Homo sapiens: one gene and its partner. The protein of the gene in region 1 purifies or fractionates together with the protein of each later gene. This does not show direct contact. Each region holds a gene or a part of one and is shown on either strand. Other genes may lie near its edges.

Region 1 (7,484 bases):
CTCAAATGCAGATACAGCATTACCTGGAAAGAAGCTAAAGCTATTATTCAGTGATGCCCAACTTGCCAAATGGTGCATTCCTCATCTTTTATAGGAGGAGTTAATCCTCAAGGATTGGAACCTAATTCTCTTTGGCAAATGGATGTCACACATGTTCCCTCGTTTGGGAGACTAGCTTATGTACATGTATGTGTGGACACCTTTTCTCAGTCTGACTGGGTTACATGCCAAACAGGAGAGTCTTCTGCCTGTGTTAAACGTCACCTTTTGCAGTGTTTTGCAGTGATGGGCATTCCAGCTTCTATTAAAACAGATAATGCCCCAGGCTATACTAGCCAAGCTCTAGCTACATTTTTCTCCATATGGAATATTAAACACATTATTGGCATTCCATACAATTCTCAAGGATGAGCCACAGTGGAAAGAATGAATCTGTCCCTGAAACAGCAGTTGCAAAAGCAAAAAGGGGGAAACAGGGACTACAGGACACCCCATATGCAACTGAATCTAGAATTATTGACTTTAAATTTTTTGAGCCTGCCTAAAGGCCAGATGCTATCAGCAGCTGAACAATATCTACAGAAACCAGCTGCAAAGACAGAAGCAGAACAACTGGTTTGGTGGAGAGATCTGATAACAAAAAGTTGGGAAATAGGTAAAATAATAACTTGGGGTAGAGGTTATGCTTGTGTTTCCCCAGGATGAAATCAACAGCCAATCTGGGTGCCATTGAGACATCTAAAGCCTTACTATGAGCCAGATACCCAGGAAGAGGTTTTGGGAGGATCCCAAAGACTCCCTGGTTGCAGCCATGTCAAGACTGATGCTGAGGAGGACCCCAACTGTCACGAGCAACAACTGCCTGGGGACAGATCAAGAAGCTGTCACAGATGGCAGAGAAAAACCTGAGAAAAGCGGGACAACCAGTCACAATGAGTAATTTAATGATAGCTATGACAGTGGTGATCACCATTGCCATGAGTATTCCTTCAACAAGGGCTGACACAGAGAACAATTACACTTATTGGGCATATTTATCAATCTTGGCTGGCAATAATGCCTGGATGTGATCACTCTATGACACAGTTACACATGCTTTCTGGTCTCAGTATTTACCATAATAATCTGCTCCTATAATTGAGGCATACTGCCCTCAAAAAACTATTTGTAAACAGGATTGGACCTGGTCAGAAAAAATGAACGTACTTGTTTGGGAAGATTGCATTGCAGAACAGGCAGAGGTGCTGCACAACGATTCCTATGGAGTCATTATTGATTGTTCCCCTAAGGGGATGTTTAGCTTGAATTGCACCTCTCAGTCTGCCTGCCATGGCCACACTATGTTCAGCTGGTCTGAACAAAATGGTCAGATGGTAGAAATGATAAGAAGTATGGCAAGAGTTCCTATTATCTGGAAACATGGTGGTATAGTGGCACCTCAACCTCAAATGATATGGCCTGCTGTAGGAGCTAAACATAAGGATTTGTGGAAACTATTAATGGCTCTTAATAAGATCAAAATTTGGGAAAGGATAAAAAAGCATCTAGAAGGACACTCTAGAAACTTGGATATTGCAAAATTAAAAGAACAAATATTTAAAGCATCCCAGGCACACCTGACCTTAATGCCAGGAACTGGAGTGCTTGAAGGAGCTGCAGATGGATTAGCAGCTATTAACCCATTAAAATAGATAAAAACACTTGGAGGCTCTGTGATTTCAATGATGATTGTGCTTTTAATCTGTGTTGTCTTTGTATAGTCTGCAGATGTGGATCCCAACTCCTGCGAGATGTAGCTCACCATGATAAAGCCACCTTTGCTTTTATTGTCTTGCAAAAACAAAAAGGGGGAACATGTTGGGGACAGGCTCCCAAATCTGGCCATAAACAAAATCTCTGCAGCACTGTGACATGTTCATGATGGCTATGATGCCCACACTGAAGGTTGTTCATTTACTGGAATGAGGGCAAGGAACACCTGGCCCACCCAGGGCGGAAAACTGCTTAAAGGTGTTCCTAACCCACAAACAATAGTATGAGCAATCTGGGCCTTAAGGACATGTTCCTGCTGCAGATAACTAGCCAGAGCCCATCCCTTTGTTTCACATAAGGAATATTTTTAGTTAATCTATAATCTACAGAAACAATGCATATCACTGGCTTGCTGTCAATAAATGTGGGTAAATCTCTTTTCATGGCTTTCAGCTCTGAAGGCCGTCAGCCCCGATTTGCCACTCCACATTCTATTATTTCTCTGAGTGTGTCTTTAATTCCTCTAGCACCACTGGGTTAGGGTCTCCATGACCAAGCTGGTCTTGGCACTTAGGCTTCAGCTGATATAGATATATGTCAGGACCAGGTATAGAATTTGCATGTCTTTCTTCCATTTGGTGAATTCTCTTGCAATTTCTGTTTTTTAAGGCTATAGCAACCAGTATTCCCAGGAATTCTACAAACCATGTACTAACCTGGCCTGAACCTGCTTAGCTGCTAAGATCAGGTGCATTCAGAGTGGCATGACCATATACTCTTTTATCTTTTTTTGTTTTTTTCAATTTTGTTTTTTTGAGACAGGGTCTCACTCTGTCACTTAGTCTGGAGTGCAGTGGTATGATCATATTTCACTGTGGCTTCAATCACCTGGGCTCAAGTGATCCTCCCACCACAGCCTCCCCAGTACATAGGACTGAAGTACCATAGGAAGAACTGTGACCTAAGAAAAAACAAGTGGGACCCATGTAGATTATCTGCTCAATGTTATGGTCAAATGACTACTGCTATAAAAAACAAAATCCATTAATCAAGAAAGTGAACTACCATTCCATGGAAGGTTCGTTACTAAGTAAAAATAAAATATGATATAAAATATCACATATCTGATATCAACTGCATAAAAAAATGTAAAAATAAAATATACTGATAGGGATGCATACCCAGGTTATGAAACTATGAAGAAAATAAGAAAACAATAATTATCATTCGCAATACTGGCTCCATCAATATTTTGGTTCACTGTGAAATTGTTTTATGTGTTTTGACCATATGTAATATTTTTAGTTTCTAGAGTGGAAACTCTGTGCAGAAATAACTATCAGTGCACATGGAAATACCAGCAACAACCTACTGAATATAATTTTTAAAAAGACAACATAGCCTGTTAAACAAATTTGTATTACAGTTAATTTTCTTTTTAAAAATGTTTTTATTATTTTTGTTTTGTTTAGGGACAGGTTCTTGCACTGTCACCCATGCTATGGTGCAGGGGCATGATGACAGCTCACTGTAGCCTTGACTTCCCAGGCTCAAGCTATCCCTACCTTCCTGAGTAGATGATAATACAGGCTCCTGCCACCACACATGGTGAATTTCTTAATTTTTGTGAAGACGGGGTCTCTTTATGTTGTCCAGGTTGGTCTCAAACTCCCGGGCTCAAGCCATTCTCCCACCTTGGCCTCCAAAAGCAATTAATTTTCTTGAAGTCCCAAAAAGTCTCAGAAAGGATATAAAATTATTATTATCCAAAAAGTACCCATGGAAAGATATCAATGGAAAATGTAATAAATGTAAAGATGTCATATGTCCTTAAACACACACTGATTATCACTGTGATGTAATCTCTCTGAAATACATCTAGTATTTTATTATATTCCATGAAATGCATAGGCAGGTTTGTTTTTTCATTAAAATTAAGAAAAACTACTTCTAAACACTGAAATAGAAGACAATGACTAAGAATAGCCAGCATAAGCTGGGTGTGGTAGCTCACACCTGTAATCCCAGCACTTTGGGAGGTGGAGGTGGGCGCATCACCTGAGGTCAGGAGTTCAAGACCAGCCTAGCCAACATGGTGAAACCCCTCTCTACTAAAAATACAAAAATTAGCCTGGCATGGTGGCATGTGCCTGTAGTCCCAGCTACTCGGGAGGCTGAGGCAGGGAGAATTACTTGAACCCGGGAGGCGGAAGTTGCAGTGAGCTGAGATTGCACCACTGCACTCCAGCCTCGGTGACAGAGCAAGACTCTGTCTCAAAAAAAAAAAAAAAAAAAAAAAAAAAAGCCAGGATGTTGTATAAAATATGACTAAGGGATGTTAATGACATAAATGTTTGCATTTTCCCACTCCAAATCATACAGTGACACCCTAACCTGTAATACGATGGAATTAAGATGGCATCTCTGAGAAGTCATTAGAATTAGATTAGAGCATGAGAGTAGATCCCTCGTGAATGGGATTAGTACTCTTATGAGACACAGGATAGCTTGTTTCCTCTTTCTCTCTGTCATGTGAAAAAATAAAAAAATAGCTGGCCGGGCGCGGTGGCTCACACATGTAATCCCAGCACTTTGGGAGCCTGAGGTGGGTGGATCACGAGGTCAGGAGTTTGAGACCAGCCTGGCCAAGATGGTGAAACCCTGCCTCTACTAAAGAATACAAAAAATTAGCTGGGCACGGTAGCAGGCACCTGTAATCCCAGCTACTCGGAAGGCTGAGGCAGGAGAATTGCTTGAATCCCAGAGGCAGAGGTTGCAGTAAGCCGAGATCGCACCACTGCACTCCAGCCTGGGTGACAGAGCAAGACTCCATCTCAAAAAAAAAAAAAAAAAAAAAAAAATAGCCATCTGCAAACCAGGAAGCAGGCTCTTACCAGGCACCAGATCTGTCAGCACCTTGAACATGGACTTCATAACTTCCAGGCTTCCAGAACTGTCAGAAAGAAATGTTTATTTTTTTATTTTTTTATTTTTTTGAGACGGAGTCTCACCGTCACCAGGATGGAGTGCAGTGGCATGATCTCAGCTTACTGCAACCTCTGCCTCCCAGGTTGAAGTGATCCTCCTACCTCAGCCTCCTGAGTAGCTGGGACTACAGGTGCGCATCACCAAGCCCAGCTAATTTTTTCTATTTTTAGTAGAGACAGGCTTTCACCATGTTGGCCAGGATAGTCTCGATCTCTTGACCTCGTGATCCACCTGCCTCAGCCTCCCAAAGTGCTGGGATTACAGGCGTGAGCCACCATGCCCGGCCTAGAAATTATTCTTTAAGTCACCCGGTTTATGGGAATTTGATATAAAAGCCCAAGATGACTAAGATAGATAGGCACTAGCCCTAGAATACATCACAGCTTTGAGATCTATACTAATAAAGAGAAAATGATATTAACAGAGAGATGGAAATATAGACCAATGGAGAGGGTCCATGGGTACAAAAACACAGAAAAAATGAATAAGACTAAGCATTTGCAAGCACAACAGGTTGACTATAGTAAAAAATAATATATTGTACATTTTGAAATAACTAAAAGAGCTGGGCATACTGGCTTATGCCTGTAATCCCAGCACTTTTGGAGGTGGAGGCAGGATTACTTGAGCTCAGGAATTCGAGACAAGCCTGAGCAACATGGTGAAACCCCGTCTCTATGAAAAATACAAAAATTAGCTGGGTGTGGTGGAAAACACCTGTAGTTCTAGCTATTTGGGAAGCTGAAGCAGGAAGATCACTTGAACCTGGGAGGTGGGGGTTGCAGTGGTGTGGCTGGCTCACGCCTGTACTCCCAGCACTTTGGGAGGCTGAGGTGGGCAGATCACGAGGTCAAGAGATTGAGACCATTCTGGCCAACACGGTGAAACCCCGTCTCTACTAAAAATACAAAAATTAGCTGGATGTGGTAGTGCGTGCCTGTAGTCCCAGCTACTTGGGAGGCTGAGGCAGGAGATTTGCTTGAACCCAGGAGGCGGAGGTTGCAGTGAGCAGAGATTGCGCCACTGCACTCCAGCTTGTTGATAGAGTGAGACTCCATCTCAAAAAAAAAAAAAAAACAAAACAAAAAAAAAAACAAAGCAGCTGACCAACATTCATGTTAAAATAGATATCAAGCCAGGCACAGTGGCTCACACCTGTAATCCCAGCACTTTGGGATGCCAAGAAGGGGCGGATCACTTGATGTCAGGAATTCAAGATCAGCCTAGCCAGCATGGCGAAACCCCTTCTCAACTAAAAAAAATACAAAAATTAGCTGGGCGTGGTGGCAGTCACCAGCTACTCAGGAGGCTAAGGCACAAGAATCGCTTGGACCCAGGAGGTGGAGGTTGCAGTGAGCCAAGATCGTGCCACTGCACTCCAGCCTAGGCAACACAGTGAGACTCTGTCTAAAAAATAAAGTAATATCAAAAGACAAAACAGACTCTTTGTGGAAATAAGACACGAAATCTTGGCAATACAGGAAGACCTCATCCCTACAAAAAATAACTAGCTGGGCAGAGTGGCATGCACCTGTGAGCCCAGCTACTCGGGAGGCTCACGATGATTGCTTGAGCCCAGGAGGTCAAGGCTGTAGTGAGCTGTGATCACACCAGTACACTCCAGCCTGGGTGACAGCAAGACCCTTTAAAAAAAAAAAAAAAAAGTCCTCCATCCTGCAAAGAACTGTTTTTTTTTTTTCTTTCTCTTTTTCTTTTTTTTTTTTTGAGATGGAGTTTCACCGTTGCCCAGTCTGGAGTGCAGTGGCGCAATCTCGGCTCACCGCAACCTCTGCCTCCCAGGTTCAACCAGTTCTCCTGCCTCAGCCTCCCGAGTAGCTGGGACTACAGGCTTGTGCCACCATGCCCGGCTTTTTTTTTGTATTTTTAGTAGAGACAGGGTTTCACCATGTTGGCCAGGATGGTCTCGATCTCCTGACTTGGTGATCTGTGCGCCTCGACCTCCCAAAGTGTTGGGATTACAGGCGTGAGCCACCACGCCTGGCCAGAACTGATATTTTGGGTACTCTTTGTAATTCACCAATCTACCATACTTTCTTGTGGAAATTATTTCATTTTTCTCCAGTTAAAATAGTAAACTTTCCCTATTTTTCTCCAGTAGCATTCCTAAAACTAGTCCCTATAACATCATTGGAAATCACCCACAACAAAAGGATACACCTGAGAAATGTACTACACTGCCCGCAGAGAAGAAAAAAACATATTAAGAAATGGAATATAAGACTAAATAGCGATTTTTTTTTTTTTTTTGAGATGGAGACTCGCCCTGTAGTGCAGGCTGGAATACAGTGGTGCAATGTCAGCTCACTGCAGCCTCCACCTCCCAGGTTCAAGGGATTCTCGTGCCTCAGTCTCCCTAGTAGTTGGGATTATAGGCATGCACCACTATACTCAGCTAACTTTTGTATTCTTAGTTGAAACAGGGTTTCATCATGTTGGCCAGGTTGGTCTTGAACTCCTGACCTCAGGTGATCCACCTGCCTTGGCCTCTCAAAGTGCTGGGATTACAGGTGTGAGCCACTGCATCCAGCCATTTTTCTGAAATCTACCTCTTTCTGGCCTGTGTGTAAAATTTTCTTATTTTGCAAGGTCTAGTGAAAAATGCAAATTACAATTAATAAAAAACCTGAAGCTGCAATAAGTGAACAATTATTTACAAAAAGACAAACCCACAGAGGGGCAATGCTGACTAGAAAGAACACAGTGATGTTTGACTCAAGTGTCAG
Region 2 (7,484 bases), on another chromosome or scaffold:
TTGAGACCAGCGTGGTCAACATGGTGAAACCCCATCTCTACTAAAAATACAACAAATTAGCGGGGCATGGTGGCACGCACCTGTAATCCTAGCTACTTGGGAGGCTAAGGCAGGAGAATTGCCTGAACCCAGGAGGCGGAGGTTGCAGTGAGCTGAGATCCGCCACTGCACTCCAGCCTGGGCAACTAAGACTGTGTGTCGGAAAAAATTAATTAATTAAATTTAATTTAAAAATTAGCAGGGTACGGTGGTGTGCGCCTGTGGTCCCAGACACTTGGGAGGCTGAAAGGGGAGGATCGCTTGAGCCCAGAAGGTCAAGGCTGCCTGAGCCGTGATTGCGCCATACGATCGTGAGCCACTGCACTCCTGCACCACCGCACTCCAGCTTGGGTGACATAACGGGACCCTGTCTCAAAAAAAAAAAAATTTAAAAAAAGGCCAGGCACAGTGGCTCAAGCCTATAATCCCAGCACTTTGGGAGGCTGAGGTGGGCAGATAGTCTGAGGTCAGGAGTTCGAGACCAGCCTGGCCAACATGGTGAAACCCCATCTCTACTAAAAATACAAAAAAAAATTAGCTGGGTATGGTGGTGGCCGCCTATAATCCCAGCTACTCAGGAGGCTGAGGCAGGAGAATTGCTTGAACTCGGGAGGCAGAGGTTGCAGTGAGCCAAGATTGCACCATTACACTCCAGCCTGGGCAACAGAGTGAGACTCCGTTCTCAAACAAACCAAAAAAAAAACAGCCAAAAAAAAAAAAAAACTTTTCCAACAAGATCAACTATGGATTATAAACTATAATAGTTTGAAAGAGGCATTTATAAGCAACTAATTAAACTCATTAATATAATGCATCAAAAGAAAGTTAGGAGAATCTGGAAGGTAGGATAACTAGAATGGGAATCAGATGGCCTATTTTTCAGTCTTGACTGCTACATATTAACTGTGTGATCTGGGCAAGTCATTTAGCTCAACAGTTCCCAGACTTCTGAGGCTTTTATCCAGGGTCCCAAATGAAGTTTCCAGTTGATATTCTGTTAAGTACAGATAGTTTTAAAAATTCATTTTGTAAAAGTAGGAAGAGTATTTGTCAAAATAGAAAAAAGTGGGAAAAAATAGCTTCATTAGAAATTCACTACATCCTGCTTATTTTCTCCATTTTACTTTACATCTGTGAAAACTTCAATAGGAACTAAACAATGATTTATTTAAAAAACAGCATTTGGTAACCAAAAACTACATATTTCTTAATTTGAAGCAAAATAACAGTATGGGCTCTAAATTCAGTATCACATTCAAATCCCACCTTTACCAGTCACTAGCCATATAACATTTTAACCATTTTTTTGTTTTTTAGATTCATTACTCTAAAAACTCTCTGAGCCTACACTTATTCATCTATAAAAATGTAGATAATACCTACCTCAAAGGGGTGATGAAACGATTAAATAAAATAACGAAAGTATCTAGTACGGTACTGGTATATAATAAGCATTCAATAAATGGTAGCAGTTACCTAAAAATGAGATGAGATAGGATTATCACCAAGATTCTATGACTCTATAGACAAGCAATAGGAGAGGGAAATGTGATCAATAAGGTCTGTGAAGACAGATACATTGAAACAGTTCCTTTATAGTGGGTTTAAAAAAAGAATTGATTTTATTTATTACAACTTTAGTTCTGAGAAAGTAAATTTGGCCAAAAAAAAAAATTTGGTAAACTTGTCATTTATTTTGTTTACTTGCCAATTCAAGGCTAAAACTGTTTAAAACTGTTTTGCTTTTCTTTAAAGTAACATATTTTATTTATATTAGTGATCACTGAATCAGAAGGCCAGAACTGATTTTGAATTCATCTAGTCAATCAGCACTCTACTAACAAATAGACTCAGAAAGGAATGTGCTTAAACTCACCTCCATCCTTCATTCATAACATAATTTATCACTTTAATTTTTTAAAAAAGTCTAAATCCTTCTCAAATTTACCATTTAAAAATTTCACATAAATAGCATCTTACCATCTGTGTAACAGTAGGGAAAATACACATAGTTGTATTTTCATAAAGAAATTCTGAAAGGCTATATAATACTTTTATTAAAAGTATAAAGAGCAAGATATGTGGGAGCAGGGTGAGATTGAGACTTCACTGTATCTGCCCTTATATTACTTTGACTTATGAACTATATGAATGTAATTATCTATTGAAAATATACTAATAACAACAAAAACCTCTCATACTTAAAGTTTCCCAAAAAGTTTTCCTCCACCCATACTAATCAACTCTGCATCAACCCCACCATTCACATAAATATACTTATCAATGCATCATTTTATATGTAAAGTCTTAAGGCTTTACATCATGAAGCTTGTGAAAGGTTGATATTTGTGCAACATACAAAAAATTGTGGCTGGGCGCGGTGGCTCACACCTGTAATCCCAGCACTTTGGGAGGCTGAGGCGGGTGGATCACAAGGTCAGGAGACCGAGACCATCCTGGGTAACACAGTGAAACACCGTCTCTACTAAAAATACAAAAAATTAGCCGAGCGTGGTGGCACGGGCCTGTAGTCCCAGCTACTCAGGAGGCTGAGGCAGGAGAATCACTTGAACCCAGGAGGTGGAGGCTGCAGTGAGCCGAGATCCTGCCACTGCACTCCAGCCTGGGTGACAGAGCAAGGCTCCTCTGACTCAAAAAAAAAAAAAAAAAATTGTTACAGTAATAACATATAATTCTTTTTATTCAATAAGCATTTCCAAAGTCTCCAAAATTAGCCCACTAGAATACAAAGTTATATTTCCTATGTTATCACTACAAATGATAATTTATGGAATAAAGCATTTCTACTTTGAACAAACTGGAAGTCCCCATAAAAGTTTTTTAAAAATTCATTTTCATGGACAACTGAACTTTTTGAAAAATAATATATTTTAAGTGAAAGTTCCCCAAAATGATACATTTACCATAGAAAATTTACAGCAGTGCATGCTAGTTTTATATTAAACCTTTCAGTACCTTCTATTTCTCCCTTGTTCAGGTTATAAGCATAAGTCCTGAAATGCTATTAAAAGCAGTGACTCACCTTGTTTACCTTAAGTTTGAATACAGAGTATAACAAAACTACCATTCCTGACAAGAGTGGCCTCTAGACCGGTAGCTCTCAACCAGGAGTGATTTTGTCCCTAGGAGACATTTGGCAACGTCTGAACAATTTTTGGCTATCATAATCGGGTTCTACTGGCATCTAGTGGGTAGAGGCCAGGGATGCTTCTAATGCACAGGAGAGCCCCTCACAACAAAGAATTCTCTGTCCCAAAATGTCTATATGTTGCTCTTGAGAAACTGCTCTAGATTATAGATCATACTAGCCAAGTATTGTGGTGCACACCTATAGTCCCCTGTAGTCCTGACTACTTGGGAGGCTGAAGCAGAAGGATTGCTTGAGCCCAGGAGTGGGAGACCACATAGAGTTATGACCATGCCACCGCACTGTGTAGCCAGGGCAACAGCCAGCCTGGGCAAAAAAGCGAGACCCCCATCTCTCAAAACACATAACGGTAAAAAAAATTTAATTAAAAATTAAAAAACAGATTATATATAGATCATAAACAATCTTAAAGGATATGACCCAACTCCTTACCTACTGGAGAAAATCAGGATGGGATTTCTGTATGACTTTTGCTTTTGATGTTAAAAGTAATTTTCAGGGAAAAAGGAATCCCTACAAAGCTTGTGCTATATTTTCAGAGCTAAATACAATTTCTGCGTGCTTTTATATAATTGTAAATACAGCACCTGCTTCAAGAAAAAAACCTCAGTGTGATATAAAGCTACACTTTTAAATTTGATATGCCTTTAAAGTATGTGTATATGAACATATATACATATATACATAGAAAGATAGGCCTAGAAAATTTACTGAATGAAAAATTTTAATATTGGTTACCTTGAAGGGTAGAATTTGAAGAATTAATGGGGGTGGGAAGAAGCACTTTTACTTTTCCCCTTATACCTACTATCTATATTGTTGAGTTTTTCAACAAGTAACTATTTTGTAATAATTTTATTATTTTCTAATTTTTTGAGATGGAGTCTTGCTCTGTTACCCAGACTGGAGTGCACTGGTATGATCTTGGCTGACTGCAGCCTCCGTCTCCCGGGTTCAAGAGATTCTCCTGCCTCAGCCTCCCAAGTGGCTAGGATTACAGGCGCCTGCCACCATACCCAGCTAATTTTTGTATTTTTAGTAGAGACAGGCTTTCACCATGTTGGCCAGGCTGGTCTCAAACTCCTGACCTCAGATGATCCATCCGCTTTGGCCTCCCAAAGTGGTGGGATTACAGGCGTGAGCCACCGCGCCCGGCCACTTTTGTAATAATTTTAAAAGAGGGCCGTCACACACACACATACACACACAAACACACATATACACACACATTCATTCTTACGACAAAAATTGAAAACCATGTCTCACACAATCTTTTCTTTAGAAACTGTATTTTTATTTCGATTTGCTAAAAAAATTAAAAGACCACAATTCTAAAATTAAAATTTAAAAATTGGTTTTTCGGTCAGGCACAGTGGCTTACAACTTGTAATCTCTGCATTTTTGGAGGCCCAGGCAGAAGGATCCCTTGAGGCCAGGAGTTCAAGACTAGCCTGGGCAACATTTTTTTTTTTTTAAATCAGGTGGAGTGGTGGAGTACACCTCTAGTTAGACCTAGCTCTTTGGGAGGCTGAGGCAGTAGGATTGCTTGAGCCCAGGAATTCGAGGTTGCAGTGAACTATGATCATGCCACTGCATTCCAGCCTGGGTGACAGAGCAAAAGCCCATCTCTAAAAATAAATAAATAAATAAAAATAGGCTGGGTGTGGTGGCTCACACCTGTAATCCTAATCTCAAAATAAATAAATAAAAATTTAAAATAAAAACCATTTTTTAAAGTGGTTTTTTTTTTTTTTTTGGAGATGGAGTCTCACTCTGTCACCCAGGCTGGAGTGCAGTGACGCGATCTCAGCTCACTGCGACTTCTGCCTCCCAGGTTCAAGCAATTCTCCTGCCTCAGCCTCCTGAGTAGGCTGAGATTGCAGGTGCGTGCCACCACGCCCACCTAATTTTTGTTTTTTAGTAGAGATGGGGTTTCACCATGTTGGTCTGGCTGGTCTCAAACTCCTGATCTTGTGACCCACCCACCTCGGCCTCCCAAAGTGCTGGGATTACAGGCGTTAGCCACCGCACCAGGCCTAAAGTGGTTTTTAAGAAATTTTTAACCTAACTTCTATTCTGAACATGGATACATTTCTTAATAGGATTCAATGCAGTGCTAGCTCTTCTAATCAAGGGCTTCGATAGCTAAGAAACATGCTAAGAATGCCTGAAGAAATACGAAGCAGGTATTTACCCCAATGTTTAAAATAACAAAAGGGCCAGGTGGGTGACTCACGGCTGTAATCCCAGCACTTTGGGAGACCTAGGCGAGCAGATCACCTGAGGTCAGGAGTTCGAGACCAGCCTGGCCAATATGGTGAAACCCCCATTTCTGCTAAAGATAGAAAAATTAGCCAGGCATGGTGGCACGCACTTGTAATCTCACTACTGAGGCAGGAGAATCACTTGAATGCAGGAAGCAGAGGTTGCAGTGAGCTAAGATCGTGCCAGCCTGGGCGACAAGACTCCATCTCAAAAAAAAAAAAAAAATGTACTGAAAGATGTGAGTCCATTCCTCTAACCAAAAGGTCTTTTGCTTGGCCAGCAAGAAAGAGTAGCTTGTTTTTTCTCAGCTCTTGGCTCTGATATTAAATATAAAGAGGTCCTTAGAGGGTCTACTCCTCTGTACACAAAATGTAGAAGACCAACTAATTCTAGAGCAAAAATACTAGGGCTCCACATTTCTTATTTCTCACCTAATCCTGCCCCATTAGAGCAACAAGACAAACTTCACTCCCAAACTACACACCAATTCATCATCTTTTTGGATGTCTAGGTACTTGTTTCTAAAATAATTTATTTTTTTTTTTTTTTGAGACAGAGTCTCTCTCTGTCACCCTGCCTGGAGGGCAGTGGCGTGATCTCGGCTCACTGCAACCTCTGCCTCCTGGGTTCAAGCGATTCTCCTCCCTCAGCCTCCTGAGTAACTCAGATTACAGGCGCCCTCCACCAAGCCCGGCTAATTTTTTGTTTTAATAGAGACAGAATTTTGCCATGTTGGCCAGGCTGGTCTCTAACTCCTGACCTCAGCTGATCCACCCGCCTTGGCCTCCCAAAGTGCTGTGATTACAGGCGTGAGCCACCATGCCCGGTGGTTATAAATATTTAGGAAAAATGAAGGCCAGGCATGGTGGCTCACACCTGTAATCCCAACACTTTGGGAGACCAAGGTGGGAGAATCACTTGAGGCCAGAAGTTTGAGACCAGCCTGGCCAACGTGACAAAACGCTGTCTCTACCAAAAATATAAAAATTACCTGGGAGTGGTGGTGGATATCTGTAATCCCAGCTACTCAGGAGGGTGAGACAGAAGAATCGCTTGAACCCAGGAGGCGGAGGTTGCAGTGAGCCAAGATCGTGCCACTGCACTCCAGCCTGGGTGACAGAATGAGACCCTGTCTCAAAAAAATAAATAAAAATAAACAAAATATTTAGGAAAGATGAGACGGAGGATTTTAGTATTATTCATCAAATGCCAATTACATGAGTATTTTTTGAAGAACACTGTTACCTTTTCACACTGAAAATTCAAAGGCAATAATAATAAAAGAAGACAGCTCATCTTGTCAGACAGAAAAAGAAAAGGGAAAATTTTTGCTTGGCCAAAACAGGTCATTTTATTCACAAAGGCACAGACTATACTCTACCACACATACTATAAAGACTAGATACTCCAAGAATTTCCTCTCTATGTGATATGGGAGAAACAGGACCCAAAAAAAATTTCCTGCTTACACAGATTAAGAAAGCATCTATACACCCACTAAGCATCATCTTAGATTAGGCTAAAGTGGGTATCCTAGAAACTTCCATTCCAAAAATGAGGTCTACATGTACTCTTAACCTGTAAATCCTTTTAGGCACAGAAAACATAAGTAAACAGGAGAATATGGGGCTCTTCTAACATTAGGCACCACTAAGTGGGTGTAGGAATCACCAACACATGACTTCTACAATAAGCTTCAAAAATACAAAAGGCATGGATTCTGCCCATAGCTTTAATTACATGGTATGGAGACTCCAAAGACCATTACACATACACACACACACACACACACACACACACACACACACACACACACACAGACATGCACAGTCAGAAAGAGAGAGAGACAAATTTATGACTTTGGGGGCAAACTAGTGCTCTACCTGTGAAGAAATTTAAGACTATTACTTATAAAAAAGCAAATGGTTGCCAGGCACAGTAGCGTGTGCCTATAGTCCCAGCTACTTAGGAGGCTGAGGTAGGAGGACCACCCGAGCCCAGGAGTTTGAGG

Evidence for each region. The genes of interacting proteins can lie anywhere in the genome.
Region 2: the proteins of ZNF433 (region 1) and ANKHD1 purify together in Homo sapiens (affinity purification with mass spectrometry, with the first as the bait; 2 studies listed by BioGRID). This does not show direct contact.

Annotation. Positions count from the first base shown.
Region 1 is NC_000019.10:12,025,494-12,032,977, forward strand, and holds part of ZNF433 (zinc finger protein 433), read right to left. Parts: intron 4,706-7,484; exon of another isoform or gene 4,647-4,705; intron 1,702-4,646; exon of another isoform or gene 701-1,701; intron 1-700. UniProt on the Homo sapiens protein: May be involved in transcriptional regulation.
Region 2 is NC_000005.10:140,404,776-140,412,259, reverse strand, and holds part of ANKHD1 (ankyrin repeat and KH domain-containing protein 1), read right to left. Parts: intron 1-7,484. UniProt on the Homo sapiens protein: May play a role as a scaffolding protein that may be associated with the abnormal phenotype of leukemia cells. Isoform 2 may possess an antiapoptotic effect and protect cells during normal cell survival through its regulation of caspases.